Linked DNA regions of Homo sapiens. The protein of the gene in region 3 interacts with the protein of the main gene of each other region in a biochemical or structural test. Each region holds a gene or a part of one and is shown on either strand. Other genes may lie near its edges.

Evidence for each region.
Region 1: the proteins of PABPC1 (region 3) and TNRC6B form a complex in vitro, tested with the Homo sapiens proteins (one study listed by IntAct).
Region 2: the proteins of PABPC1 (region 3) and PAN2 are reported together in a solved structure, tested with the Homo sapiens proteins (2 studies listed by BioGRID, with this or other methods).
Region 4: the proteins of PABPC1 (region 3) and ITCH form a complex in vitro, tested with the Homo sapiens proteins (one study listed by BioGRID).
Region 5: the proteins of PABPC1 (region 3) and UBR5 are reported together in a solved structure, tested with the Homo sapiens proteins (one study listed by BioGRID).
Region 6: the proteins of PABPC1 (region 3) and DDX3X form a complex in vitro, tested with the Homo sapiens proteins (one study listed by IntAct).
Region 7: the proteins of PABPC1 (region 3) and TNRC6A form a complex in vitro, tested with the Homo sapiens proteins (2 studies listed by BioGRID, with this or other methods).

What each region holds. Positions count from the first base shown.
Region 1 is NC_000022.11:40,184,111-40,188,419, reverse strand, and holds part of TNRC6B (trinucleotide repeat-containing gene 6B protein), read right to left. Parts: intron 1-4,309.
Region 2 is NC_000012.12:56,330,752-56,335,822, forward strand, and holds the start of PAN2 (PAN2-PAN3 deadenylation complex catalytic subunit PAN2), read right to left. Parts: upstream 3,250-5,071; 5' UTR 3,111-3,249; intron 2,968-3,110; exon of another isoform or gene 2,736-2,967; intron 2,458-2,735; 5' UTR 2,344-2,457; coding exon 2,062-2,343; intron 1-2,061. UniProt on the Homo sapiens protein: Catalytic subunit of the poly(A)-nuclease (PAN) deadenylation complex, one of two cytoplasmic mRNA deadenylases involved in general and miRNA-mediated mRNA turnover.
Region 3 is NC_000008.11:100,711,740-100,716,048, forward strand, and holds part of PABPC1 (polyadenylate-binding protein 1), read right to left. Parts: intron 3,863-4,309; coding exon 3,723-3,862; intron 1,443-3,722; coding exon 1,348-1,442; intron 1,051-1,347; coding exon 913-1,050; intron 719-912; coding exon 623-718; intron 1-622. UniProt on the Homo sapiens protein: Binds the poly(A) tail of mRNA, including that of its own transcript, and regulates processes of mRNA metabolism such as pre-mRNA splicing and mRNA stability.
Region 4 is NC_000020.11:34,369,458-34,373,766, reverse strand, and holds part of ITCH (E3 ubiquitin-protein ligase Itchy homolog), read right to left. Parts: 5' UTR 4,297-4,309; intron 1,066-4,296; exon of another isoform or gene 1,041-1,065; intron 1-1,040. UniProt on the Homo sapiens protein: Acts as an Acts as an E3 ubiquitin-protein ligase which accepts ubiquitin from an E2 ubiquitin-conjugating enzyme in the form of a thioester and then directly transfers the ubiquitin to targeted substrates.
Region 5 is NC_000008.11:102,405,746-102,410,054, reverse strand, and holds part of UBR5 (E3 ubiquitin-protein ligase UBR5), read left to right. Parts: intron 1-4,309. UniProt on the Homo sapiens protein: E3 ubiquitin-protein ligase involved in different protein quality control pathways in the cytoplasm and nucleus. Mainly acts as a ubiquitin chain elongator that extends pre-ubiquitinated substrates.
Region 6 is NC_000023.11:41,347,468-41,351,583, reverse strand, and holds the end of DDX3X (ATP-dependent RNA helicase DDX3X), read right to left. Parts: intron 3,945-4,116; coding exon 3,865-3,944; 3' UTR 1,310-3,864; downstream 1-1,309. UniProt on the Homo sapiens protein: Multifunctional ATP-dependent RNA helicase. The ATPase activity can be stimulated by various ribo-and deoxynucleic acids indicative for a relaxed substrate specificity.
Region 7 is NC_000016.10:24,732,455-24,736,763, reverse strand, and holds part of TNRC6A (trinucleotide repeat-containing gene 6A protein), read right to left. Parts: intron 1-4,309.

The DNA.
Region 1 (4,309 bases), on a different chromosome or scaffold from region 3:
AGTCATACTGATTAAACAAACAAAAAACAAGACTGAATAGCTGATATCCCAAACTCTGACAGGGCACTTCACAGAAAAATAAGCTTCTCTATGTCAACTGAAATGAAATCATGTAGTAACCAAAAACCAGCACTTACTCTCTCCAGTGTGAACAAGGTTTGATTCCAAGCAGGATTCAAGATCATTTCTTTATTTTGTTTTATTTTTTTTTGAGACACAGTGTTGCTCTGTCGCCCAGGCTGGAGTGCAATGGTGTGATCTCAGCTCACTGCAACCTCCGCCTCCCAGGTTCAAGCGATTCTCTTACCTCAGTCTCCCAAGTGGCTGGGATTACAGGCGCCCAGCTAATTTTTTGTATTTTTAGTAGAGACGAGGTTTCACCATGTTGGCCAGGCTGGTCTCAAACTCCTGACCTCAGGTGATCCACCCGCCTCAGCCTCCCAAAGTGCTGGGACTACAGGCGTGAGCCACCGTACCCGGCCAGATTCAAGATCCTTTCTATCTTTACTGGTTATCACTTAGATGGTCTAGTTAACAGCTGCAAAGCAGTCTCAATCAATGAGATAATTAAATGAAAATCTTTGAACCTGCTTTTTATAAACTGAAAAAACCCACCCATATTTAGTAAATATGCGTTCAATTGGCCCAGGTCGGCAAAAAGTACACAATGACTAAACGGGGCTAAACGGAGAAAAGTGAGATAAGAAAAGTGAGAGACAAGCACAACATAATTAGCCTGGTGGCACCCTCTCCCACCTCACACCTCCACCACACAGGGACGCTGGGACACTGACTTAAAGCAATCCTAACTTCATCCCCCCACCTGAAGCCACCACCTCACTGACTCCAGGGAGTGCAAAAGAAACTCACAAACAGTAACAGGAACGCTCCCACCCCTCCTGCTGGATCTGTTTTTAAGTGTAAGCCTCTGCACCAAGCATTTCAGAAACATGGCACAAACCGGTATGTTTAGGAACTTCTACCAATGTACCATTCTGCTGACTGTAGCCCAAACACTATTTCAAATTTTGGAATCTGTGTATTTTCATAAAAAGTTTGTCTCCTCACATTCAAAATTAGAGATTTGACCCTTCTAAATTCTAAAAATTCCACTAGGATAAGCCAACATGTATTCTAAGAAACACTAATCCTGTGAAATGCTTTGCGATGGTGCTAAACCATTTTGGGTATTTTCAGAGTGCACATCCGCTGTACAGTAGCCTATTTTACTTCGCATAACCCTCCCTGTGCTGTCCAACAGAGTAGCCGCACGTGGCTACTGTGCACTTGCAATGAGACTAGTGCCACTCAAACTGAATTTTTAACTGTATTTTAATTAATTTAAATTTAAAAACTGACATTTCCATTGCTGGAAAACTTTTTTATGTTTGGAAAAACGTGGGTATGTGAACCTACTTTTCCATGAAAAAGTAGTAAGTTTTATGAAATCTAAAAGCAAATCAAGTATTTCCAATGAAAATTTTATGTTTGAACTGAAATGTGTTGTAAGCCTAAGATACACACCAGGTTTCAAAGTCTTGGTACAAAAAAAACGTAAAATGTTGCGTTAACATTTTAAAATCAATAATATGTTGAATTAACAATATTTTACATAAATAAAGTCGATATTACTGAAATTAATTTCACTTATTTCTTTTTATTTTTAACTTTTTTTTTTTTTTGAGATGGAGTCTTGTTCTGTCACCCAGGCTGGAGTTCAGTGGCGTGATCTCGGCTCACTGCAACCTCAGCCTCCCAGGTTCAAGCAATTCTCCTGCATCAGCCTCCCAAGTAGTTGGGATTACAGGCATCCGCCACCACGCCCGGCTAATTTTTGTATTTTTAGTAGAGACGGGGTTTCACCATGTTGGCCAGGATGGTCTCGATCTCCTGACCTTGTGATCCGCTCACCTCGGCCTCCCAAAGTGCTGGGATTACAGGTGTGAGCCACCGTGCCTGGACTGTTTACTTTTTTAATGTGACTCCTGGAAAATTTAAAATAACACACGTGGCTTGCATTCTGTTCCTACTGGGCGGTGCTGGCGCCATCGAATGATTCCCATACCAACACTGGAACACCTCCCAACACCAGGTTCGGGAATGTTGCCATAACCAAATACTTTTCTTCCTGTGCAGCATTTGAACTGCTGCCCACACCTGTGATCGAACAGTTCTTCCCTCATCTTCTGTGATGAGGAATGACTGTCCTTCAGAGCCACCGTTCTTTTTATCCTTTCCCAGGTCCTCTTTCTCTTCCCGTCCCCAAGGTCTCATTCTCAGTTCTTTTTTCTATTCTTTACAGTCCCATGGTGACCTCATCCTCTCCCTTACCTTCGACTATCACTTCCACGTGGAAGCCTTCCAAGTCTTTATCTCCACTTCTGACCTCTTTCTCAAGCTGCAGATCCACACTGCCAGCTGCCTGCTAACCAGTTCCATTGCCAAGTCCCACCAAATTCTCCAATTCAGTAAGTCTGACCTGGAATGCGTCATCTTCCTTTTGGTTGAAGATTCCCATCATTCACCTTAAAAACCTGGTCCCTAGTTGCATGGCCATAGCCTTATAGCAGGACCTTTCATAACAGTCCTTTTATCCCCTAATTGGCCTGCCTGTCTCTCAATTCTTCCTTTAATCAGTGCCCCCCCACCAAGTCCTCCTCTGCACCACTGCCATATCAAAATTCTCACTGCACTGCCATCAAATTTTCAACAGGTCCCCACCGTCTACCATAGCAATACAAACTACTCAGCAGGCACTCAGCTCCTGTACACGTGTGCAACCTCCCCTCAATCCTCCCTGGACACACCTAGTCCTCCTCCACCTTACTCTAGCTAATACAGCCTGCCATGAGTCTACTCACCACCATTCTGCCCAATCTGTAGGGTTCCACTCAAATACAAAGTCCTCAACAAAGCTTTCTCTGATCAACACAGTTAAAATCAGTGTCTCTCCTCCCTCAAACTCCTTTGGTACTTCTAATAATCATTATGGTAATGAGAGTATATGGCCTTATCTTTATAAAATAGTACAGTATTCCCTTAATAGCACTGAACAGCACCTTGCACTGCATAGTACAGGTATGCCATCTTTGGACACCTTACCAAAGAAATCAACTTAAAAAGGAAAATCTTGCCAGGTGTGGTGGCTCACACCTGTAATCCCAGCACTTTGGGAGGCCGAGGTGGGTGGATCACAAGGTAAAGAGAACAAGACCATTTTGGCCAACATGGTGAAACCTCGTCTCTACTAAAAATACAAAAATTAGCTGGCCGTGGTGGCACATGCCTGTAATCCCAGCTACTCGGGAGGCTGAGACAGGAGAATCGCTTGAACCCGGGAGGCAGAGGTTTCAGTGAGCCAAGATTGTGCCACTGCACTCCAGCCTGGCGAGCAAGACTCCGTCTCAAAAAGAACAAAAAAAAATTTGGTAAATTTGGAACTACTGGTAACTCTTAAGTCTTTATCTCCAGACCGGACCTGTAATTACTCCAGCCTTTCACCTGGATATCTCAGGATTCAATGATTCCAAAACTGAACTCATAATCTCAACCCCACACCTGTGCCTCATCTAAATGCACCCTAACTCAACGAATGGTGGCACCATTCCCACAAGAAGCCAGGCAGAGACACAGGTGTTATTTTACATTTCTCCAACCCCATCTTCTCATACCCAATGACCAACTCCTCCAAAATCTTCCTAAATGCCTCTGGAACTCATTCATTTGTCCCCAACTCTGTTGTCAGTTCAGGCCACTATGACCTGAGATTACTACAGTATCATCTGGTCTGACGTGCAATGTCCCAGCCAGTTTCCACAACACACCAGAATCGTCTTTCAAAAATCCAATCTGAACAAGTGACTTTCCCACTTAAAACCCTTCAACTGTTCTCAGGAAAAAGACTTTCAAACGTGGCTTATACACTCTTCTGCATCTGGTCAAGGCTTAGTTTTTCAGCTTACCTCTCATTTCTCAGATTATTTCTTCCCTTAAGCACACGACACTCCAACCATGTCAAAGTACTCTCTATGCTGTTCCCCAAATATGCCAATGTCCACTAGTGCCCCGTGGTCTTTGCAGAAGCTGTTATCTCTCTAGGTGTCCACCCTTTTTAACCCCCCAACACCCTGAGCACCAGCCAGCCCCTTGCATCTATTCTCTAACTTCAGCAGTCGTGTCTGGAGAAAATCTTCACACTACTGCTAGGCTTGTACTTGTACTTATCAACACCTGGCATGTGAAAAGCACTCAGTAATTATTTGCAGAATGAATGAGTAAACAGATCATTTTCTAAGTTTTTTAAAAAACA
Region 2 (5,071 bases), on a different chromosome or scaffold from region 3:
CAAAGTGCCGGGATTACAGGTGCCACTGTGCCTGGCCTCATTGTATTTTTCTTTTTCTTTTTTTTGAGACGGAGTCTTGCCCTGTCACCCAGGCAGGAGTGCAGTGGTGTGATCTCAGCTCACTGCAACCTCTGCCTCCCAGGTTCAAGCAATTCTCCTGCTTCAGCCTCCCAAGTAGCTGGGATTATAGGAACCTGCCACCACACCCAGCTAATTTTTATATTTTCAGTAGAGACGGGGGTTTCACCATGTTGGCCAGGTTGGTCTTGAATTCCTGACCTCAGGTGATCCGCCTGCTTCGGCCTCCCAAAGTGCTGGGATTACAGGTGTGAGTCACCATGCCCAGCCAGCATTTTTCTTAACAGTACTAATCAACACCTGATGTATTGTAATGTTTTTCTGTTTACTGCTTATTCCAAACCTAGACCTTAGGGCAAGGTCTGACACCTAGCATGTGGCTCAAAAAAACACTGGTTGAATGAATAAATGTCTACCTCTTCCAGTCCGGTAAATCCTAATTGCTTGTAGTTCCTGAATTTTGTACTCAGCAAGCTTTGTAGTATCTTGGGAATCTTTGTTTATCCTATGCTAAGACGCCTTTTCCCATCTTTCTCACCTGATTTCTACTCATGTTGCAAGACTCAGTTCAAGGGTTACTTCCTCCTCGATGCCCTTTCTGACTATTCTCCATCCTGTCCAGCATCCAGTACAGATTTTCACACTGGCGCTTAGTACCATGAAATTATCTGGTTTTGTATATGTTTTTTACCTCACTGTCCTGTAAACTCCTTGAGGGCAAGGATTATGTTTTATTTAGCTTTATTCACAGTGCCTAGCATAGCAGTAGACACTGCCTATTAAACTGAATGAATCACACACAAAAATTCATCCCTTCTAATGGAAAAACAATTCATGACCAAAGAAGTCAATCAGTAAATGAAGGACAGCGTTTTTTTTTTTTTTGTTTTTTGTTTTTTTTTGAGACGGAGTCTCGCTCTGTCACCCAGGCTGGAGTGCAGTGGCGTGATCTCGGCTCACTGCAACCTCTGCCTCCCAGGTTCAAGCGATTCTCCTGCCTCAGCCTTCCGAGTAGCTGGGACTACAGGCGCCTGCCACCATGCCCAGCTAATTTTTTGCATTTTTAGTAGAGACAGGGTTTCACCATGTTAGCCAGGATGGTCTCGATCTCCTGACCTCGTGATCCGCCTGCCTCAGCCTCCCAAAGTGCTGGGATTACAGGAGTGAGCCACCGGTCCCGGCCGGACAGCACAGTATTTCTTACAAAGTCTTTGGGCACCATAGCATATTGGCAATACGGGTACAGATTTTAAAAAATTAAGATTGATAACTGCTCTGAGAGATATTAAAATCAGCCAGAGAAGACAAAATGATTCAATGGAAGATATGCAGAATCATTCATTAAATATTCTATAATAATAAAAATAGAAAACACAGGTGGGGCAACAGCAATTGAGATTAGATTTGGATGGCTACAGACTAAGTGATGGGTACAACTATCAAGATAAATCAAAACACTGGATGGGCAATTGTGACAAAAGTGGGATGCTGGCCAGGTGCCGTGGCTCACACCTGTAACCCCAGCACTTTGGCAGCTCTATGCAGGAGGACCATTTGAGCTCAGGAGTTTGAGACAAGCCTGGGCAACATAGTAAGACTAAAAAATTTTTTAAAAATTAGCTGGTCTTGGTTGCGCATGCCTGTAGTCCCAGCTACTTGAGATGCTAAAGTGGGAGGATTGTGTGAGCCCAGGAGATTGAGGCTGCAGTGAGCCATGATCACATTACGCCATTGCACTCTGGCCTAGGCGACAGAGCAAGACCCTGTCTCGAAAAAAAAAAAAAAAAAAAGGGATGCCTCCTGAGAAAGAATATGTCATTTACTCCTAGATCCTAGATTCTCCCTTTATCCCTCCAACCAGACCCAGCTGTCTCATCACTACAACTCCTCGGTACTGGCTATCTGCAAAGCAGCTTCCTTGGGTTAAGACCAGATAAAGACCTTCAACATCTTTCAACCCTCACAAAGGGGTACAGTTCTTACCCCGTGGCTCCCCACCCACAGCATCTCCTCGTGCAAGTCAAAGTGGGAGACGGAAACAGGTACACCCACTTCAGCCACCACGCTGTGCAATTCAGAGTAGACACCTTCCATTATGTGCACTGATTCCTGGACGGGAAGAGCCTCCAAGGCCACTCCCTCTGGGTCCAGCTCCACATTCTGTAGCAGACTTGGGTTCAGGTGGGCATCCAAGACAGGGTCCAGGGCAGAATGCATGGCTGGGGCATATTCTGCCAGTCCAGGGTCCAGACCCTCAAAGTTCATGATGACGATGGCAGCTTACACCTGTGTCACACCCTCCCTTACCACAGTCCCTTTAGATGCCTGACCCAACCTTCAGCAAGACAGCACCGATGGGCCTAGAATGGACATCCTGGCCTGTAAGGGGAAAGAGGTAGCTGAGTCAAGGGTAGGCCCAGGTACTGGTACTTAGGGTCTTCTAGGTTATGGGGGCAGGAGGGAGATGAGGCAGGCATGAGGGATGAGACTGCCAGCCAAAGGATGAAGCAGGCGGGGGAGGGATGGGCAGTGGGGGTGGAGGTGGTAGAACTGTTGTCCCTATCCCTCCTCCGCTAGGCCCTCTGTACTCTCCACCACCCCATTATCTAACCTAATCCTTGACTTCCCTTTCTTCTCACTTCGGACTGCTCACTTGCCTTGTTCAGCCCTGAATCATCAGGTGAAGGGAGCGAGAATTGCGGGGGTTGGAGTTAGGTAGAGGGATTTAAGGTGCTTTCTCCCAGAATTGGGGGTGAAAACGGGTGGATTGGACGGTGGGGAGAACGAGAAGTCAGTTTCCTAGAATCCTCTCCAATAGCTACCCAGGATTCTCTAGAGGAAAACAATAATGGCCAGTTACCCACAATTGGGGCGGGGGCAGGGGAAGGTGACGGAAACGGCTAGTTACCCAGAATTCTCTGGGGGAACCAGAAAAATCGGTTATCTAGAATTCTCCCACGGCAGCGGTGAGGAGGGGGATAGGGCAAGGGTCAGATGTGTTCCTGGGATGCTTACGGGGAATGGGTCATTACCAAGATTTCTCCATGGCGGATATTTTGGAGCGCGTGGAATTAGAACGAGTAGGGGGAGCGCAAGCGCTGTCAGCTCCGCGGGAAATTCCAGTTTCCCCAGTTCTCCCCCACGCCTAGGGCTCAACCTAACCACTACGGCGCCAAGGACCGGGGTCCGAGGCGCTTCTTCCAATCAAGAAGGGCTCGGGGCATATTTTAGCCAATCAGAAGGGCTCCGGGCGCATCTAAGCCAATCAGAAGGAGCCAGGTACGGCGACCCCAGGAGAGAGCGTGTGACGCACGCGCCGGAAAAAGAGGTTACGGGGCGCCGGTGGGACAAACGCAGCCAGACGCCGGACTTGTTGGGTGGCGTTAGAAAGTAACTCTGTTTTTAGTCTTCTTGAACAAAATTACGTCTAGGTTTGAAAACCAAACTTTTATGCTTTCTATAACTTTAGGAACTCTAAAATAAGGGACACACAAGGCAAAGCACTAGGAGTCGCTGTTGGGTATTCCCAGCGGGGCTTAGTCTACCTCCTCTTCCTGCGGTGCCCTAGTGAGCCACTCCGCCACCTCTGACCCTGTTGCCCCCAAAACTCGCTGGCATTTCCTATTATTTCCAGATATGGGAGAGAAAAAAAAGGAAGCGGGAGCCGGACTCCTGACACAGTCCAAGTGGCTGCATCTTCTACAGGCATCCATCTGAAACTCCCATCCGTGATTGTTCCCTCCCCAGAGACCCCGGTAACATTCCCGGGTAACAAGATGCCCCTGGTTATCAAATTCCCCTAGCTCTTGAGGCTGGCTGGACGTTATCCCTCAGAGGGGGATGAGCATGGCAAATTGGGACTTGTTATTCTGAAGGATTCGTGGGTCCTGTGAACTCTAATTACTTTGAAATGGGTCTAGGTTGTGAGATGTCTCAGAGCACTTTAGCTCAGCTGTTATTACTGTTTCTAAAGGCCACATAAAGGGACTCTGATGGGAGACATTCCTCATGGAGGATTCAATTCTATAACATTTCTCTCAATAAAGGCTGGTAAATAGACCTTCATTAAAGGAACCAAGAATTTAAATTTCTAGGACTCAGAGGGGTGGGGTCCTATACCCAGTCAGAGATCCTACCTAGAGCCTAGACCAAGAGAAAAACACAGATGGTCTCTCAAACTGATTTGATCTGACTTCGCAGGTCATTAGATATAGAATCTCCGAAAAAGGTGGATGCTGAGAGACATAGACAGTTCCTACACTTTAAGAAATCTCCATCTTGAGGTCTCAAATTGAGAAAGACTTAACAGACCCATGAGAGTTACAGATCCCTAATAACCTGGGCTAAATAATCCATGTCTGCCGGGCGCAGTGGCTCACGCCTGTAATCCCAGCACTTTGGGAGGCCGAGGTGGGCGGATCACCTGAGGTCGGGAGTTCGAGACCAACCTGACCAATATGGAGAAACCCCGTCTCCACTAAAAATACAAAATTAGCCGGGCCTGGTGACGGGAGCCTGTAATCCCAGCTACTTGGGAGGCTGAGGCAGGAGAATCATTTGAACCTGGGAGGCGGAGGTTGCAGTGAGCCGAGATGGCACCATTGCACTCCAGCCTGGTCAGTAAGAGCGAAACTCCGTCTCAAAAAAAAGAAAAAAAAAAAGAAAAGAAAAAAGGATACTGTGAGGAGACACAAGAGCATCCATGACATAGATTATTTAGCTCAGCTGTAATTACTGTTTCTAATACAGTAATATTAGATGGTGATCTGCCTGCCTCGGCCTCCCAAAGTTCTGGGATTACAGGTGTGAGCCACCGCGCCCAGCCTTTTTTTTTTTTTTTTTTTGAGACAGGATCTCACTCTGTTGCCCATGCTTAAGCGCATTGGCCCTCTCACTCACTGTAGCCTCAACCTCCTGGGCTCAAGCGATCCTCCCACTTCAGCCTCCCAACTAGCTGTAACTACAGGCACTGGCCACCAAACCCAGATAATTT
Region 3 (4,309 bases):
CTAGAAAGATCAGCCACAGCGTCATTCCAGTTCAGTTGAGTTGTAATTTTTTTCTATGCACTCTTCCCCAACCCCAGCAAAATTATGTATGCACAAAACCTTGCATATAGGGGGACTCTTGGCCCACGGATGCTAGACAAAAACATCTAGAAGAGAACTTCTTAAATCAAGATTTCAGAATTTGTACTAGAATACTACTGCTTTGTTTCTTAATCTCTGATTTCAAATAAAAGAAAATATGATCTCTATTCTTACTGCTAGGGGGCAGGGGAGGGAACTGGGGCTTGACTACCCAGAATGAATTGTAGAAATGAATAAACAGATCAGAACTATAGTAACAATTATAAGTCCCTAATAAATTGCTTGCTTTAGCAAAATGACTAGTTGTTGGAATAGTGCATATCATGTGAGGATATCAGCCTTCCTTAGCAAAGAGTTCAGTGCTTGCCATTTTTAAGTTAACCATTAGGCTATGACAACCAGTTCAAATGTGAATTTAAGTTTTAGAAGTAACGAAGCAAACACCTCTCTAGTGGCTATAATAATACAAAATTTATATACATATATCTACATGTATGAATTTTTACTAGACCTCAAATAAATGAACCATATGTTTTCTTACCTTTGCACTAGTGATTGTACCAAATGGAGAAAACTCTTTCCGGAGACGTTCATCATCAATACCATCATCAAGATTTTTCACATAAAGATTAACACCCTAAAAAGAAGAAAAGAAAACTATAGAAAAAGAAAACCATGGTGGTACCTAAGTACATCGGGTCTATTATTTTACCCCATATTTCTTCTCCTATTCCCCTCTCAAACCCTCCAGCTACCTGGAAGTAACTGAAATCAACGTAAAATAGGTTTCCTCATCCCTGTCTTATTTTGGTTGTTCAATTAAAAATGAACCTGGTATCTGGTGATCCTATCTTGTTTCATCTGTTCAAATTTGCGCTTAAGTTCCGTCTGCCGTTCCACCTTTTTCTGAGCTCGACCAACATAAATTTGTTTTCCATTGAGCTCCTTTCCGTTCATCTCATCCACAGCCTTCCCCCCAAAAAAAAAGAAAAAAAAAAAATCACAAAACTTTCAACTTACAGTTCATTTCCTTAACAGTTAAGACAAATTTGTTAAGTCACAAAAGCTAAAGACAAACCCATCCCAAAATCTCAAGGTTTTGGGACAATATAGGTTACCAATTTATACTCTCAAACCTAATGCATAAAATGCAAATAACTGAAAATATAAGAACATGTCAAATAGCTATTAGTATGCACATAGACTTCAACACAAGAGCAACTCAACTTTGTACCCCCTTCTTCCTGCTGAATACAGACCACTTACTTTCTGTGCATCTTCATGCCTTTCAAAGCTTACAAATCCAAATCCTTTGGATTTTCCACTTTCATCAGTCATTACTTTCACACTTAAGGCAGGCCCTAAAAAATTTTTTTACATAAATCAAAGATATTCCATACAACATTCACGTTATACATTTCAAATTTCAACATACAAAGCCATGAAAAAAATTTCAAAGCTCCGTAACTTGACTCCTCCCTCCCAGCCTTCTATGCCCCAGGTAGGTATACTTTTCCATTGAAAGACCTTTTATTATTAAGAAGGTAAACACCTTCCCTCCCCTGAAGGATTCCTCCTTCCATTTAAGGAGGTACACTTTAAACGGCTGTAAAAAGTTTTATTCTCAGCTCTAGCACAAAAGAGTTGCATTTTTTACCCAATAATTTGATTTTTTCCCTTTTCTATAGAGACAGTATATCATTCCATTGCCCAGGCTGAAGTGTAGCAGCACAATGAATAAGCTCACTTTAACTCAACTCCTGGGCTCAAGTGATCCTCCTGCCTCAACTTACCAAGTATCTGGGACTACTGGCCCACATACCACCATGCCTGGCTAATTTATTTTTTGTAGAGATAGGGTCTTGCTATGTTGCCCGGGCTAGTCTAAAACTTGTGGCTTCAAGTATCTTCCCTCTTTGACCTCCCCAAGCGCTAGGGTTACAGGCATGAGCTATTGTGCTAAGACCAATTTGATTTTCTTTGTATCAATTAAGAAACAAGTATTTATTAAGCCTTGGCCTACCCGACTTTCAACAGGAGTGGAAGGAATACATAGTTGGACTCTTTGGTAAGACATAGGTAATACAGGAATTTGAAAGACAGGGAAAAAAAATTCTTTTTAAAGACACAGGTGAACTACCTGGAAGAGGAAGCATTTATTTCTGAAGACATGTTTTCCCCTAACTCCCTCTAAAGTAGGAGAGACAGGTAACTGAGGCGGGTGGTATCTCAGGCAAGTGGGGCAGAAAAGGTTAAAAATCACATTTGATTACAGAAATTTAGAAGATGTATGGGCCAAGGCAGATTTTCTTCTGAATGTGCCTCTCTCCTGAGGCCAAAGTCAAGAAAATATGACATATTCACATATTTGTGGTCAACTTATGCAGCATTACTCATACGGTAGGTAGTTAACATCAACTTTTACAAACAGCTTCTAATTATAAGACATTAAGAAGCATGACAGTTGAAATATATAAAAGGCAGTAGCTAAATTTGGGGGTTGAGATGTAAACATGATGTCACTTTCTATGTTTTATATCATCTATCTTTGTGCAAAATGGTACTTTTTTGCTCTAGTGGAGGGCTTGATGTGACATGCTAGCATGGCAGTAAGATATTAGATTTCCTGGCCAGGCACAGTGGCTCACACCTGTAATCCCAGCACTTTGGGAGGCCGAGGTGGCTGGATCACTTGAGGTCAGGAGTTGGAGACCAGCCTGGCCATCACGGTGAAACCCCGTCTCTAATAAAAATACAAAAATTAGCTGGGCATGGTGGCGCACACCTGTAATCCCAGCTACTCAAGGTAGAGATAGGAGAACTGCTTGAACCCGGGAGGCGGAGGCTACAATGAGCCGAGATCACGTGACTGCACTCCAGCCCGGGTGACAGAGCAAGAGTCAAAAAAAAAAGTATTAGATTTCCTAATTCTTTATTATTTGACATATTAAAAAAAGCAAGACACCTCTAAGTTCAACACAAAATGCAAAGGGTGGGGTCAAGCAAATCATCTGCACATGAACACTTAAAAGTTATTTTATCTGTTATACCCCTACCTAAACTAAGGCTGGTTTGTGCTTCATCAATTTCAAGTTTTATGAAGTTATTTTTAAATGCAGGAAATAAGTACTTTGAATCACTGGAAAATCTGAATTTTTGGTTTCATCGCTGAAAGTCATTGTTTTAAACTGCTCAAACATGATGTTACTTAGACTGACCAGCTTTATTGTTCTATGAGACTGCATTCCACTGTAGGCTGGCTGTGTCAAATATATGCTTCTGATGACATGGGATCTCTAATTACACACACACACACACACACACACACACACACACACATATATATCTCCAGCCTCTTAATGTAGTAAAATATTTTAAAATCTGTTCTAATTACTTAGTCATACCTTACTGTGCTAATCTAATGCTATTAACCTTTAACCTGGATAGAATTCTATTTATTTGCATTATACTACTTTGTAGTGTAATAGATGGCCAGCAGCTTAATTCAAATAACCACAAATATTTTAAAGTACCATGTAAGTCTAATTTTATTGACTTTTTTAGTATAAAGTAATAGCTAAAATTAACACTGAGCACTAATTCAGAGCTTTGTGTGTAAAAATTTAATTAAGACACATTACCAAACTTGCCAAAGAGATCCTTAAGGCGCTCATCATCCATGTCTTCTCCAAAATTCTTGATGTAAACATTGGTGAATTCTTTTGCCCTAGCTCCAAGTTCAGCTTCTCGTTCTTTACGAGACTTAAATCGTCCAACAAATCTAATAAGATATACAAGGACTATAACATTAGATTCTATTTTATAAAGTTCAGATTAAGTAAGCCTGATGGTTGGTTTTGTTACTGTTAATGAGAATATTCAGAATCCCTAATAAAAAGCACACTACAAAATAGAAATAGGGCCATAATTTAAGATATGACACCATGAAATATATGAATAAGCCTCTAACTACAATCACAAAAAAAAAACCACTTCTTTTAATACACACTTCTCTTCTCTAGCTAACCTAGGGTTAAAGGGATCACTCCCATCAATACAAATGAGTGGAAGTGCATGTGTACCATGCCAATAAAAAGACCTCTATCAAATTAAAAAGCTTTCATCGTCATTTTAAAGTGGCGCTTGCGCTTTCTTTGCCATCTCCTAGAATAAAAATTTAAACTTCCCAATCGTGTACTCTAACACACAACAGCCTGACATAACTGCA
Region 4 (4,309 bases), on a different chromosome or scaffold from region 3:
GATGAATTCTTAACCTGTAAGTGACGACATAGTATTAAAATTCTTCTCTTTTCTGGGACAGAAGGATAGATCTATTAGGGTAAGCAATTTCCAGACATGGAAAAAAAAAATGCGAGTTGCTGGAGGGCAGAGATTGCTTTTTCACCATAAGTCCCTGCAATGTCTAGCATACAGCAGCACTTAAAATACATTCAATTATGTTAGGCCGAATGCCTATAATTCCAGCACTTTGGGAGGCCAAGGCAGGCGGATCACCTGAAGTCAGGAGTTTGAGACCAGCCTGGCCAATATGGTGAAACCCCATCTCTAGTAAAAATATAAAAATTAGCTGGCCATGGTGGCAGGGACCTGTAATCCCAGCTACCCAGGAGGCTGAGGCAGGAGAATGGCTTGAACCCAGGAAACGGAGGTTGCAGTGAGCCAAGATTACACCACTGCACTCCAGCCTGGGCGAGAACAAGACTCTGCCTCAAAAAAAAAAAAAAAATACATTTGGCCAGGTGCAGTGGCTTATGCCTGTAATCCAGAACTTTGGGAGGTCGAGGCAGGTGGATTATTTGAGGTCAGGAGTTCAAGATCAGCCTCACCAACACAGTGAAACCCTATCTCTAGTAAAAATACAAAATTAGCTGGGCGTGGTGGCACATGCCTATAATCCCAGCTACTTGGGAGACTCAGGCAGGAGAATCGCTTGAACCCAGTGGGTGGAGGCTGCAGTAAGCTGAGATTGCACCATTGCACTCCAGCCTCGGCAACAAGAGAAAAACTCCGTCTCAAAAAAAAAAAAAAAAGGAATACATTCAATCATGTTAAAGGAACCAAAAAATCTGAACTTAATTTCTTAAATTGCAATGCAATGAAACTCTTGTAACATTTACCAACTTCCTTTTTATAATAATCAATCACTGGCAAGGAAGTCTGTTTTCCTGACAAAATCCTTAAACCAGGAGTTTTATATTTGAGTACCCCTTGGAACCTAGCACAATAGCAGCTCAACAGATCCTTGTCAAATATTACAAACTTAAACTTTCTATACTTACGTTTCCTACAGGTCTCTCAGTGCCAATGTTTAAAGTAGAACTTAAAAGGCCGGGTACGGTGGCTCATGCCTGTAATCCCAGCACATTGAGAGGCTGAGGCAGGCAGATCACGAGGTCAGGAGATCGAGACCATCCTGGCTAGCACGGTGAAACCCCATCTCTACTAAAAATACAAAAAATTAGCCAGGCATGGTGGCGGGTGCCTGTAATCCCAGCTACTCAGGAGGCTGAGGCAGGAGAATTGCTTGAACCCGAGAGGCGGAGGTTGCAGTGAGCTGAGATTGCGCCACTGCACTCCAGCCTGGGTGACAGAGTTAGATTCCCTCTCAAAAAAAAAAAAAAGTAGAACTTAAAATAACATGGTTTCTCATTTATAAAGCATCAGACATTATGAAGCCTTTTTTTTTTTTTTTTGAGACAAAGTATCCCTCTGTCACTCTGTCGCCCAGGCTGGAGTGCAGTGGCGTGAACTCGGCTCACTGCAAGCTCCGCCTCCCAGGTTCACACCATTCTCCTGCCTCAGCCTCCCGAGTAGCTGGGACTACAGGCGCCCGCCACCACGCCCAGCTAATTTTTGTATTTTTAGTAGAGACGGGGTTTCACCATGTTAGTCAGGATGGTCTCGATCTTCTGACCTCGTGATCCGCCCGCCTCAGCCTCCCAAAGTGCTAGGATTACAGGGATGAGCCACCGCGGCCGGCCGAAGCCTTATTATAAGATATTTCTGATATCAGTCATATATTGTGATGTCAACAAAGCCATGAAAAATCAGTGAGTTAGCACATAAAGCACAGAATATAATAGAGTGAGCTGGAAAGAACCTGAGAAATCATATTCAAAACATTCAATAGATAAGTGAGGAAACCAGGCCCAGGGAGATTTAAGTGAGCTGCCCAAGATCACAGAATTTAAGTGACCAGTAATACCAATGGTAGAACGCAGGTTTCCTGAATGTTGGCTCAAATACCTTTCCACAAAGAACTGCTTTGTGAGCTTGAGATGAAATGGATATGCTGAGAAATATTTTAAAGATATTTTAAATACTTTAATAATACTTTTAAATATTTTTTAAATTGCTTTATAGTAGCTATCACAAATCATTCCACCATCTCCTTCCTTTCTCTTGATTATAAAAAAGAACAGGACCGGGCTCAGTGGCTCACGCCTATAATCCCAGCACTTTGGGAGGCAGAGGCGGGCAGATCACCTGAGGTCAGGAGTTCAAGAGCAGCCTGGCCAATGTGGTGAAACCCCGTCTCTACTGAAAATACAAAATTAGCCAGGTGTGGTGGGTGCACGCCTGGCCTCCCGAGTCCCAGCTACTCAGGAGGCTGAGACAAGAGAATCACTTGAACCCAGGGGGCAGAAGCTGCAGTGAGCCAAGATCGTGCCATTGCACTCTAGCCTGGGGAAGGCTCCATCTCAAAAAAAAAAAAAAAAAAAAAAAGAAGAAGTGATTTTATTTCCTTTGGATATATACCCAAAAGTGGCAATGCTGGATCATATTTTAGTTCTATTTTACCAGTATCTTCCTATTCAGTTTTTTTTTTTTTTTTTTTGAGACGGAGTCTGGCTCTGTTGCCCAGGCTGGAGTGCAGTGGTGTGATCTCGGCTCACTGCAAGCTCTGCCTCCCAGGTTCACACCATTCTCCTGCCTCAGCCTCCTGAGTAGCTGGGACTACAGGCGCCCGCCACCACACCCGGCTAATTTTTTGTACTTTTAGTAGAGACGGGGTTTCACCTTGTTAGCCAGGATGGTCTCGATCTCCTGACCTCGTGATCCACCCGCCTCGGCCTCCCAAAGTGCTGGAATTACAGGCGTGAGCCACCGCGCCCAGCCTCAGCTTTCTTATCTAACAATTCACCTGCTCAACTTCATTCACTCCCTATTCTCTTACTGCTTAACTTTATGTTCTACTTTTTTTTTCTTACCCAGTAGTCTTCCTTCTCTCCTGACCTTTTAAAGTGATCTGTCTTGTCCTCATGTTTTCCTTCACAATACTACTCTCAACTTCTCTCACCTTGTGGATCTAGATAACATTTCTTTTCTTTTTTTTTTTTTTGAGACAGACTCTCACTCTGTTGCCCAGGCTGGAGTATAGTGGCACGATCTTGGCTTACTGCAGTGTCCACCTCCTGGGTTCAAATGATTCTCCTGCCTCAGCCACCCAAGTAACTGGGAATACAGGCACATGACATCACACCCTGCTAATTTTTGTATTCTTAGTAGAGATGGAGTTTCACCATGTTGACCAGACTGGTTTCAAACTCCTGACCTCAAGTGATCCGCCCACCTTGGCCTCCCAAACAAAGTGCTGGGATTACAGGTATGAGCCACCGTGCCTGGCCAAGATAACATTTTAAGTCATGAATTCATTTCCTTTTCTAAAGATTTAATAGGTATTATTTTATTTGATCCACACAACAATGCCAGGGATGGAGACAGGAATCAATACTTACCTATTTTACAGATGTATAAACTGAGGTCTGGCAAGATTAAATAACTCGCCGAAAGTCACACAGCTTGTCAGTGGCAAAATCAAATCGGAACCCAGATCTTTTCTTTCCAAGTCCTCTATTCTTTCTGCACTGAACCATGTTGTCTTTTTTTTTTTTTTTTTCCGAGACAGGGTCTCACTCTGTCACCCAGGCTGGAGTGCAGTGGCGTGATCATGGCTTACTGCAGCCTCAACCTCCTGGCTCAAGTGATCCTCCCATGTCACCCTCCCAATCAGCTAGGATTACAGGTACACGCCACCACACCAGCTGATTTTTTTTTATTTTGTGTGGAGTCAGGGTCTCGCCATGTTGTCCAGGCTGGTCCCAAACTCTTGGGTTCAAGTGATCCTCCCACCTTCGCCCCACAAAGTGCTGGAATTACAGGCATGAGCCACTGCACCTGGCCATGTTGTCTTCTTTTTCATTACCCACCTCTTAATCCTACACATGCACATGTCTAGATAGTATACAGAGATAAACGTGTATAAAACAACACAAATAGAAAAAGTATGCATATGTATAAGGGATCTACAAAAACAGAAAAGTCAGAAAACCCAAATTAAGAGCACAGTGTGGCTCACAGGCTAATCCCTGCAGAGGCAGCTTTGGGTTTCAGAACCAAGTGAAGCTGCCTATATGTTCAACCAACTGATGCAGCTAGCATCAACACTGCTCTCTCCTCACAGCAGGTATAAGACCAGAGCTTGGCCTCTGCATCACTCTTGCCCCCAATTTCTCTCACAGGATGACACCATACCTGAAGTTCTCAC
Region 5 (4,309 bases), 1.7 Mb from region 3:
TTTCATGAAATTAGGAAAAAAGTAGACTTGAGTCATAACATGTGCATCAAGGTGGCAGATATTTGAAAAATAGAAAGGTGCCGTAGGTGAAATTATAAAGAGCTATATGGTTGTATCTAGTAGCGGTAAACATGTCTTGCCTTTTGAGATTTGTGAAGGCAGCATTTAAGATAGGCACATATCCTAAGTTTTGAAGTAGCTGATTTGTGGCAGGAGCTGTTCTGTGTTTCCCTTTCAAAAGGAGGGCTCCTTTTTGCATACCTACTTGTAATAGGATCAACCTGTCACTTGAGAAAAATCTGTTTCCAAAAGAGACTGGTTTTCTGGAACCTTTTAATTAACTAGAATAAGCGTATTTTCATCTAAAGATAAAAACTTTACCAAGTTTTAGTAAGTTGGGGCAATAAAAAAGCTACTGCTACTGTAGCTTGACTTTTTTTATTATGAGAAATGTATGAGAGTCACAAATAAAATGATAATCATAGTTATGTATGAAAAGGGTGTAAATAGACTTTATACTTTGGAATAAAAGTAGTAAGATTAGACAGGCAGAATGGTACTGCAAATAAATTGCTCAGCTGAAGAAAACTTGGTCCTCAAAACAGTAGTGTTTTCTTCAAATACGTTTTCTTTCTTTACCCACATCCTCTTAAAAAGTCAAATATTTTGTTCAGCATCATAGTCTGATGTCTCAAGTGTCTAAAATGTACAAAGCATAAAAAAGTATCTTTTTTTCATAATTTGTGTTTTCAGACTTGCCAATAATGAATAATAATGATGCCAGGATGAAATTGACAAATACAGGTGGGGATGGCTGGGGTGGAAAGAAGAGGATGTTGGCTGTGACTTCCCAGAATGATTACAAGGTGCCTGGCACAGAATGCTGGGCCCTCAAGCAAATATTCATTGAGCTGAATTGAAACCATTCAGTGCTCAGATACTTTGGACATTTTGATCTCCTTTCCAATGGATTTCTTGAGTTAGTACTACGTTCCTGCTTAAAACATTGTCTCAGAGAAACAGTAAAACAATATAAAGAATGTGGTTCGTCGAGCTTGAGGGGAGAGCTGAAAGGCCTGCCTCACTAATAGCCTGGAAAGTGCCTCACTAATGAGCTGAAAAAATAGGCACAGAGATTTACAGTGTTTATGCAGGGATACAACTACTGAGAGACAGCTGAGGTCCACCTGATGGGTCTTCTGACTTTTCTTTAAAGTCCAGGGCTCCATTCCACTTCACGTGGCTTGTATTCCAGAATGGTTCTGCTGTCTCAGACATCCCAGCCTTCAGGCAGTGTGGCCACCTGTCTTAGTGTTTTGATTCCGTTTTCCCCTCAACTGCTCTTTCCAGGGCTCCTAATGGGTTTATGCCTTTTTTTCAGAGGCTGACGCTCTTAACCTTTTCTTGGTACTAGGTTAGGATAGGTCTTCTTAAGGTGATGTGGTTATGGCATTTATTGTCCTTGTCCTGAATTATTCCTCAAGATGCAGGTTAGTTACGAAACAAACCAGTTCTTATTGCTTGTCTGTATGTGGAATTTTCCTGTGAGATTTGCCTTTTGGCATTACAACGTATTGTGCAGTCATAAACAGTCTTTATTGAGATTGTCATATCAAAAGGATTTTTCTCTAAGCTTAGAGTTTCCCTTTCAGGTGTCATAACACAAGGTAAGATACTATAGACAGGAGTTTCAAACTCTGCGCTGGTAGCCTAGTCATTTAACCTCTTAGAACCCCCCACATCAATCTCTGAATTAGGTGTAGCACTCTCCTCAAGGTCAGGGAGGAACAGTTGAGACAGTAGATGGGAAAAGATCAATATTATAATGTGGATTCTACGGAAAACATTACGAAGAGATGGTTACTTTTAACTTTTTACGTGTTGCCTGGTTTCCAGATAGCAAAGCAGGAACTCAAAAGAGTTGCCCTAGAATATCCTTAGCATTCAGAGCAGAATCGACTCTTAGTTCTAGATTAGTACTTCTCAGCTTGGTGTGATTTTGCACCCTCCACACACAACCCCCTCCCCTTATTGGGCAGTGTCTGGAGACATTTTTTATTGTCACAGCTGGGGCATTGCTACTGGCCTCTAGTGGATGGAGGCCAGAGATGCTGCTAAACATCCTATAATGCATAGGATAGCCCCCACAACAAAGAATTACGGGGTCCAAAATGTCAGTTGTGCTAAGGTTAAGGAAGCCCATCCTAGATGATCTTCAATGCATTTGGTTGTAAAAATAAGTGAAAATGACTTTTATGAAGAATATTTCAAGCAATATACGTTCTTTTTTTTTTTCTTTTTTGAGACACAGTTTTGCTTTGTCTCCTAGGCTGGAGGCAGTGGCCGGATCTCGGCTCAATGCAACGTCCACCTCCTGGGTTCAAGCGATTCTCCTTCCTCAGCCTCCCAAGTTACAGACGCATACCACTATGTCTGGCTAATTTTTGTATTTTTAGTAGAGATGGGGTTTCGTCATGTTGGCTAGGCTGCTCTTGAACCTAACCTCAGGTGATCCATCTGCCTCAGCCTACCAAAATGCTGGGATTACAGGCATGAGCCAATGTACCTGGCCGCAATATATATTCTTAATTTTTAAAACATGACTGTTTAAATTAAGATTAAGGCCCGGCCAGTGGCTCATGCCTGTAATCCCAGCACTTTGGGTGGCTGAGGCGGGCGAATCACTTGAGGTCAGGAGTTCGAGACCCCTTAGCCTGGCCAACATGGTGAAACCCCATCTCTACTAAAAATACAAAAATTAGCTGGGTGTGGTGGTGGACGCCTGTAATCCCAGCTACTCAAGAGGTTGAGGCAGGAGAATTGCTTGTGCCTGTGAGACAGAGCTTGAGCCCGTGAGGCAGAGGTTGCAGTGAGCCAAGATCGCGCCACTGCACTCCAGCCTGGGCGACAGAGCAAGACTCTGTCTCAAAAAAAAGGAAAAAAAAATTAATTAAGATTGATTAAAATTAAATAAAAATTTAAGTCACTTCATCTGTAGCTAGTCACATTTTAAGTGCACTGTAGTGCCACGTAGCTACTCACTACCACATTGGACAGTGCAAATACAGAGCAGTGCCATCATCACTGAAAGTTCTCTTGGATAGTGTTGGCATAGAAAGTGTGTTTTTGCACAAGTCTTGGCATTCAGTGAGTGCTCATTATGTTTATTAAGAACTTTGAGGTTTTAAAGACTCAGGCATATCTTCACTCAGTAGGAGCCAGAAAATATGCCAGGGATTATATGAAGCATAACAAAGGTTGTGGTGAGTAGAGGTTATAATAGTTGAAAGCTGCTTGAAATTTTATTGTGGTGCACCAAAAAACAAAAAAACAAAAAAATCAATAAAAAAACCCCCCAGACATTAGGTTGTGTGGGATGGAGCATCATATTACCAAATCAGTGAAAAATCTCACCATTTGATTATTGAGATTGTTACCTAAAAGCAATACTAAATGCATTATGCCAGGTGCGGTGGCTCATGCCTGTAATCCCAGCACTTTGGGAGGCTGAGGTGGGCGGATCATCTGAGGTCAGAAGTTTGAGACCAGCCTGGCCAACATGGTGAAACCCCATCTCTACTAAAAATACAAAAATTAGCTGGGCATGGTGGTGCATGCCTGTAGTTGCAGCTACTCAAGAGGCTGAGGCAGGAGAATTGCTTGAACCTGGGAGGTGGAGGTTGCAGTGAGCCAAGATTGCGCCACTGCACTCCAGCTTGGGTGACAGAGCGAGACTCCATCTCAAAAACAAAAACAAAACCAAAAACAAACAATAAAAAACCAATACTAGATTTATTGTATTGGAAAAGTACAGTCTGGCCTAACTAAAATGTTTAAATGAATTTGCTTAAGTAAGATTAACAGCAGGGTGTAGAATAGCCAAGCAAAATAGAAAATCAAAACAAAGGCAGAGCAATTTTATAAATCAGGATATCTGTGACTGAATCATAGGCCTAGGAATAAACAGACACTTGTGAAGAAAATTACAGGATACACAGGAATACGACTAGGAATAATAGGTGAAATTAGGAAAGGTCAGGGTTTTTTCCCCTAACAATTAGACCATTAGGTTATTTAGGAAATAGTTTCCAAAGGAAAATTTAATTGCTGAAGACTGAGTTACATGGACGTAGATCTTATAAGGTATATTAAAGGAAGCAATTTTATGTTACAGGAGGATGTACTTAATGTCTCCCCTCCCTCATTTTATCATACATATTTATTTTGTTTTTTGAGTCTCGCTCTTGCCCACGCTGGAATGCAGTGGTGCCATTTTGGCACAATCTTGGCTCACTGCAACCTCCGCCTC
Region 6 (4,116 bases), on a different chromosome or scaffold from region 3:
TGTACCTACAATAAGTAGGTATCTCTGCATTGTGGGAGTAGTGAGGCCCTATCAACAAAGTCACTGTGCTCTAAAGAGCAAGCCTGTGGCCACTCAAGCAGGTCACGTAGAGCATAGGAGCAAAGGAAACATTTTAAGCATGAAGGTTAGACACAGCTCCTATAAAGCCATTTTAAAAATCTTGAAATTCAGCCAAGAATCCAGGAAACACATCAACAGTGCCCAAGAGTGACAACTGCATTTAAGTGTAATTAAAATTAAACCACATTAATGTAGTATGTAAACATACTAAATTTATGTCACCATAATCCTAACCATGCTAGACTAGAAATAACCTCAAATTTTGGCAGTTCCTCCAGAGCAGATTGTCATGTTCACTCATCATTCACATAAAGTGGAAACTGAACTCTCCTTAGCATCGTTTCACTCCATGAGTCACTTTCAGCCATTGACTATCCAATCTAGCAATCCCAAACCTTTCCATGCTTATTTTGACTAAATCGAGACTCAAGTACCATCATCTTTTCTATCTTCAAAATACATATGGCCATGTGTCAAAATTCTGCCCTAAAAACTTATGCTTATTTTGAGTTCATGACTGGAAAGATTATCCAGAACCATACTTCCTTACAATGCAAAAAATTCTTAATCATACTGCAAACCTTCAACTTACTGAAACAAAAGCTGAATACGTATTTGTTAGATTGAAACGTATCAAACCGCTAGTATGGCTCAATCTAACCAAGCACCTATACACTTGTGGTAGCAGCCTATTGCAGCAGTGTGTACAGTAAGCATAGATGTCTTATTACCTGTTTTCAGAGATAAGGTCTTGCTATACGTTGCCCAGGCTGGACTTGAACTCGTGGGCTCAAGCAATCTTCCTGCCCCTCAGCTTCCAAGTAAACTAGCACTATAGGACTATGTAATCATCACACCTGGCCCAAATAGTCTTGATTCCTTCCCTAAGTATATACTTACCATCACTTGTTGGACTACTGACACACTTGACTTTTATCCTGCTCATTCTTCCACTGTTCAACCATCCTTCATAATAGATACTTCAAAGAACAAAGAGACTCCCACCCATGTCAAATTGTTCAAAGTATAAGCCAATTTCTAATACATGCTGTATTATCAGTAAGGGCCTTTTAGATTTCCGTCTATTACAAAAATCCTGTTTCACTGTATTTCAAACTAATACTATCTTCATCTTTCATTGCAAATACTTATGGTATGAGTCATTCTGTATCCAAGAGGCATCTCAAAAAATAGCACTGGATGACAAGCAAAAAATAACATTTTACAATTTTTCAGGCAAGAGCACTTTATTTACACCTCTGAAAATAAACCACAATTGACAACAACAAAGGAGACTGTGCAGTTCAACTTTTTATTTTAATAAAATCAGAATATGCACAGCACATGCAGTGCTAGCATCTAAACTAATACAATAAGCAATTACTAAAGCTACAGTGACTTGAGGTTCAATCTTTACATTCAGCAAGTTTAAATCCTTACATGATTTTTGAAACCTTATTAACTGAAAATATTGCTTGCTGATAAAACTTGCTCAAATGCTATTGCTGAATGTACAAGTCACTGATTATGCCAATACAACAAAGATAACCACATGTTTGAGGATTGCAATGTGCCAGACATTCACTGAAAAAAAAAAAAAAACACACAACTAAACAAAATCCACACAACAAACATCTGAGAATCTGGACACTTCACATCAGTGTTTTGAAGTGTTTCATTAATATCTTAAGACAAGTGTATCAAAACCTTGGCATGATTTAATTTCAAGTCGCCAATTTTGTTTTTACTAACATCAGAAAGTTATGGCTACACTGCCAACGCCGGGTCTGCTTAATTTGACTTAAGAGTTTAATATGACTTAAACATTAAAAGCTCACACTACCCCGAAATATATAATTTCACGCATACGGTGACATTCAACATTCAAGTGCCAGTGTTTTTGTACTGTCTTTTGGTCAAGTTTCTTTAAACTTTCAAAGAATCACTTTTAGGCTTACAAAAATAAATATTTGTCAAAATGTTCAATAAATATTACATAAAACTAGCAGCAAAAAGTATCTAGAAATCTGTCGTGTGCAAATAGTTTTCTTCCCAACTATCATTCCCATGGTCCCAAATAAATTTTAGAATCTAGTCCCATCCCCTTCCTAGACAAGCTGCGTTCAACAATCTCCAAGAGACAAAGTAAGATTGGAAGTTTAAGGACACGCACACAAGACATATATATAAAATTCTCTGAATGTGCAATAAAAGAAGTACTTTGTAAAAAGTTATGGGCAAAATGTACAAGGGCCTAAACCTAGACTAATTGAAATAGCACCATAACAAATGACCTCAATACTGTCAAGTGCACCTACTTAATAAAAGTTTTAGAACAAGGCACAATACACTTGAAAATCTATTGCACTTTAGGAAATTTTTGCCGTCTTCCTATGCCACTGTAAAAAGATGGAGCGTTTTGATCACCGCATTCTGGCCACAAAATTAGCACAGAATTCAAAGTGGCAGAGGCATTTTAGTGGTGGACAATGCTCATCTTTGGCCAGATTTAGCATAAACAGACTATAAATACAATGGAAACCTATGCAACTAAAACTGACTAAAACTGCACTGTAGAGCAGAATTGACACCTTGTGCAGTTATGTACATATTTCCAACCTGTGTGATCTCAAAGATTTCAGTTTGTTACTCTTCTGGAGCCATTTTTACGAAGTCTATAGTAAGCCAGTTTAACATCTCAACGCAGCTTGAACAGAGTAATGTGAATCGGCATTTAAAATAAAGCCTGCTGCATTTAATTCTTCCTGTTCATACCCTCTTGACCAAAAAACATCAACACTAGCATGCGTTATTAGACCAAAAATCATCCAGGGCCCTAATGAGGGCTGGTCATTGCTGTGGTCAGCCATTCTACCATTTCAATTTCATTTATGGCAGGCATTTAAAAAGTCTAAGTAGATGAATTCTCCTAAAAACCTATTTCAAGTTATCAGACCTTTAAACTTTCCCTGTAATAGTATGCCCACATTTGGCTAGCTCATAATTAATGATCTGCCTAAACGTTGAAAGAGGAATTGCTGTATTTACTTGCATTAACTTTGAAAACAGTGCTTTGAATGTATGCATGTATTCATACATCACCTCATCATGACTGGAATGGCTTAAAGACTATCAGGTTCTAAATACCTATCCAGGATAGAGTGAGCAAATCAGAACTTTAACTTAATACAGTTTGCCACATTAGAAACTAATTCCATTAATATGCTTCAAGACATTTGTTGTTTTCCCCCAATCTGCAAGTATCAAAAAGCCCTAATGCAGGCTACCGCATAAGTTTTTCCTTATATTATTTATGGATGAATCGATGATTCCTGTTAAGTTGTATCACACCTGTGTGCCAAGGTTTGATTTTAGCCCAAGTTCAGTAAATTTATTTTGTCAAAACAATTGATATCTTGAGCATTACTGAGCCAACAGGACATCAAAATAAAAAGTTGTCTAAAGTTAAAGGCACAGTACATTAACAAACAAATGATCCTCAGTCACAAAATTATAAATGCAGTTTGGGATGGGGGTAGGCGGGAGGGGAGTTAATCCAAACTACAGCAATGAAGTCTTCAAACCACCTTCTGAACAGGGCTGCTGATTGTTCCTTTCATTTCTTCTTGTGACCTTGAGCTCCCTTAAAAAAAAAATTTCAGTGGAGAATCACAGCTGGTAATGTACTGCGAGTTCTTGAAGCTACACAAGGTATAGTCTGGCTAAGTTACATGTGGTTTCCATATTAGCTTGTTTGGCAGGGTGACCTACTGCAAAGCAGGCTCAGTTACCCCACCAGTCAACCCCCTGGGAGTTATAATTTCCTCCATATCCATCACTGTTGTAAAAGCCTCCATAGCCACCTAATGAGAGATTTAAAAAGAGAGAGAAATTAATGAAGTTATCCATCATTAAATACAATCCTTCCCTTACGTAATTTGCCATCAAGTTTCTATAGTGCTGAACTTAAATTGTTTAATTAGGCTTTGAAAAAGATGACTAAAAGGAAAAAAACCCTTCCCAAAGCTATGAAGT
Region 7 (4,309 bases), on a different chromosome or scaffold from region 3:
AAGTCAGTGTAGAAGTAAGAATATTGGATAACCTTTCGGTTAATTTACTTCAAAATGCTGTGGGGAGGGAATACTGAAGACAAACACATCATCACCTATGGGATACTCCTGCCAAAAAGGGTCAACCTGAACCTAATCATACAGACAAGACCCAAAAAATGCAAATTTCAGTCTGCAAAAACAACTAGACTGGACTATTTCAAAATGTCATTGTCAAGAGAGAAGCAGAAAAGGGCAGGAAAATGCTCCTAATGTAAGAGAAACTTCAGACACAACTAAATGCAACCCAGGATACAGCAATTGAGTGAAAGAACAAATACAACTTTAAAAAAAATTTTGAGAAAATTGGGAAAATCTGAATAGGGACCAGACAGAATTGTAAAGTTAAACTTCCTGTGGGTGATCATTTGATTGCTGTCAGGTAGAATGCCCTTATTCTGTGAGATACCTACTGCCATACTTTGGTGTGCAATGTCACGATAGAACAAATGTGGCAAAATATTAATAATCACTAAAACTAGGTAAAGAGATACAGGTATTAGTTGCAACATTTTTCCAATTTTGCTTAAGGTTAGAATGATTGATTATTTATTTGAGACAGAGTTTTGCTTTTGTGCCCAGGCTAGGCTGGAGTGCAATGGCGCAATTTCGGCTCACTGCAACCCTCGCCTCCCAGGTTCAAGCGATTCTCCTCCCTCACCCTCACAAGTAGCTGGGATTACAGGCATGTGCCACCACACCAGGCTAATTTTGGTATTTTTAGTAAAGATGGGGTTTCACCATGTTGGTCAGGCTGGTGTTGAACTCCTGACCTCCAGTGATCTGCCCACCTCGGCCTCCCAAAGTGCTGGGATTACAGGCATGAGCCACTGTGCCCGGCCAATTTTTTAAAATTTTAAAATGAGATAGGGATTTCTGTTTTTTCAGTGAGAGATTTATCATGCATCAGCCTGAACAGAATACATATAACGCATACCATTTTAGTCTTTCCAATCATGGGCAATACTTTTGCAGTTGTCATTAAAATTGTAAATATGTTTTGCAATTTATACTTTCAGACATTTCAGATGCCAAAAATCAAAAGAGCTTACAGAATGGTATTCTTTTGATGTTTATATTCAAATTTTCCACAGAGGGTTGTTACACATTTTTAAATTAAGTTTACAGATTGTGATTAATTTATCCTATCAAGTGATTTACCACCTAATTGCCAAATTAAGCTGGAAAAAAAGCATATTGGGTTGGTACATTAAAAATGAGCAAAAACCACAATTAACTTTCGCACCAACCTATAGCAATATGCATGTGTTGGCCTGCAAACCGTATCACAGCAAAGCAAAAGAAAAGCTTAACAAAATCAGATTTTCTTTCTTTTTTTTCAGACAAAGGTTGATGAATTGCATGAGTGGGATCCACCTTAGCTACGGAGACCTAATGCCTTGGGGTTTTACTCCTGCTGTCCTAGTCATTTCTTTTCTTTCTTTCGAAACAGAGTTTCACTCTGTTGCCCAGGCTGGAGCGCAGTGGCACAATCTCGGCTCACTGCAACCTCCACCTCCCAGGTTCAGATTCTCCTGCCTCAGCCTCCCAAGTAGCTGGGATTACAGGCACATGCCATCACACCCAGCTAATTTTTGTACTTTTAGTAGAGACGGGGTCTCACCATGTTGGCCAAGCTGGTCTTGAATTCCTGACCTCAAATGATCCACGTGCCTCAGTCTCCCAAAGTGCTGGGATTACCCGTGTGAGCCACTGCACCTGGCCAGTCCTAGTCATTTCTAATATAGCATTTGTCCCACGCAAAAGCATCTCAGATAAGTGTCCCAGTTTAGATGCAACATTATATGGTATATAGCACTTTTAACAACTTTTGTTATATGATGACATACAGTTGGTTTATGGGGGGACAAATCAGTATAACGTGAAGTTAACTTCTACTTTAAACAAAACACATTTAGTACATGATAGTAAAGTCATCACTAGAATGAACATAACATATTGAGATAACTGCTTTTACTCTTTTAGAATAAAAAAGGAGAAACCAAAATTATATTTTATCTATTGTGCAATATAAAATAAAATACTGCACATGGGAGGAATACTAGAATTAGAGTCAAAAGGCCTGTTTAAATCCCAGCTGGGTCACTTGACAGAGAATATAAACTTGCGTAAGTTACTGAATCTGTTTCAACCACAGCTTTCTCACTTGAGAAATGAAGAAGTCAGAATGCTGGCTGATCTCTATCTAAAGTCATAGTCCAGCTCTAAATATTCAATGATTCTATGATTCTGGCCTCCAAAATATTTTTTCAGACTAGACCAGCTGAGTTCTACTGGTCTAGACCAGTACTGGTAGATTTTTTTTTTACAACTGCAAAATGTAACTTAGCATCTTCTCTCCCCAAACTCCTATTTCTGCTCTGACTTGTTCTGTTCAGAGGTTGGGTCAAACTCTCATTCACCCATGATGAAGATTCCTATGTATTTTTGACTCCTCTGACACCTAATCAGCTGTCAAATCCCAGATTCTTAACTTCCTCAGTATCTTATACACTCATCTTTTTTTTCCTTTCTCTCTCTTTTTGCTTTGAGACAGGGTTGCACTCTGTTTCCCAGGCTGGAATGCAGTGGCACAAACTCAGCTCACTGAAGCCTCAAACTGCTGGGCTCAAGCAAACCTCCCACCTCAGCCTCCCAAGTAGCTGGGACTACAGGTGCACACCACCACACCCAGCTAATTTTTTAAAATTCTTTTGTAGAGGCAGAGTCTTATCATGTTGCACAGGCTGGTCTCAAACTCCTGGGCTCAATCCTCCTGCCTTGGCCTCCCAAAGTGCTGGGATTACAGGCGTTAGCCACTGGGTCCAGCCTCACTCACCTCTTTTTGCCACCACTTCAATTCAGGCCTCCATCGCTTCTTGCCTAGATCGCTAGTTTTCTCCCATAAATACACCTGGTTAGTAATCCCAGACCAGAAGATTATTCTATCACATCAGTACGCAACAAAAAGCATGCAATAGCTCCCATACCTAAAAATTTATGCACAAGTTCCTCAACCTGACATTCAAGAACCTCTATATCTGGCCTTAACCAGTTTGCTACAAATACCTTATATAACCTGAACTACCCACTGCAATATCAAAATCTCCTGTACTTTCTGGATTTTTGTGTCCTTACTTCTGTTGTTGTTCTTACAATGCCCTTTTATCTGCCTTTCAAAACTGATTCCATTCTTCAAAGTTCAGTTCTAATGGTAATCGCCCTCATGTAGATATTATGGCTCCCATGATACTAACATAATGTGACAATTTTAATGGCCAACTGTGAATTTTAAAAGACAGTTTACCTATGATAGTAAACTAAATTTATTATTTGTGCCAATGTTGTTTAACTGGCACTGGCTACCAGGCACACTGTCTTGAGGATTTGCAGCTTAGCAGAGGAAAAGGAGAATGGCAACACATCTTTGACATTCAGAAACCAGGGCTTCCAAATTGAGGATCTACATAATAGGGTCTAGGCTTCCATGTTATTAAAAGATTTTTTTTTCTTTTTTCAGACAGAGTTTCACTCTGTCAAGTAGGCTGGAGTGCAGTGGCACAATCTCGGCTCTCCGCTCCCAGGGTTCAAGTAATTCTCCTGACTCAGCCTCCCGGGTAGCTGGGAATACAGGCGCATGCCACCACGCCCAACTAATTTTTGTATTTTTAGTAAAAATGAGGTTTCACTATGTTGGCCAGGCTGGTCTCGAACTCCTGACCTCAAGCAATCCACCTGCCTTGGCCTCCCAAAGTGCTGGGATTATAGGTGTGAGCCACAGCACTCGACCAAAAGATGTTTAAATTAACTCAACATCTAAAAGTTTGGAGGCTTTCACGTTACAATTCCTAATGAAGATCTAGAGCAGTGGTTCTCAGCCAGGGTCGATTCTGCGCCACTCCCAGGGACATCTAGCAATATCTGGAAGCATTGGTGATTGTCACAACTGGACGGGGAGTGCTACTGCGGATGCTGAACATCCTGTGATGCACAGAACAACCCTCAAAATAATAAATTATCTGGTCCAAAATGTCAAGTGCCCAGATGAAAAAACTGATCTAGAAGTATTGCATGCATCTGTGGGTCCCGCCTACCAAAAGAAATTTTCAAATTTTGCAAGTTCGAAGCCTAAAAAGTTACTCCAATTACCAGTGATATGGTCTCCTCCAAGTTACTTAACCTCTTTATACATCAAATTCTCCATCTGTAAAACGGAGATAACAATACTACCTACCTCACAGGGTTTTTCAAGGATCAGATGAGTCCATGT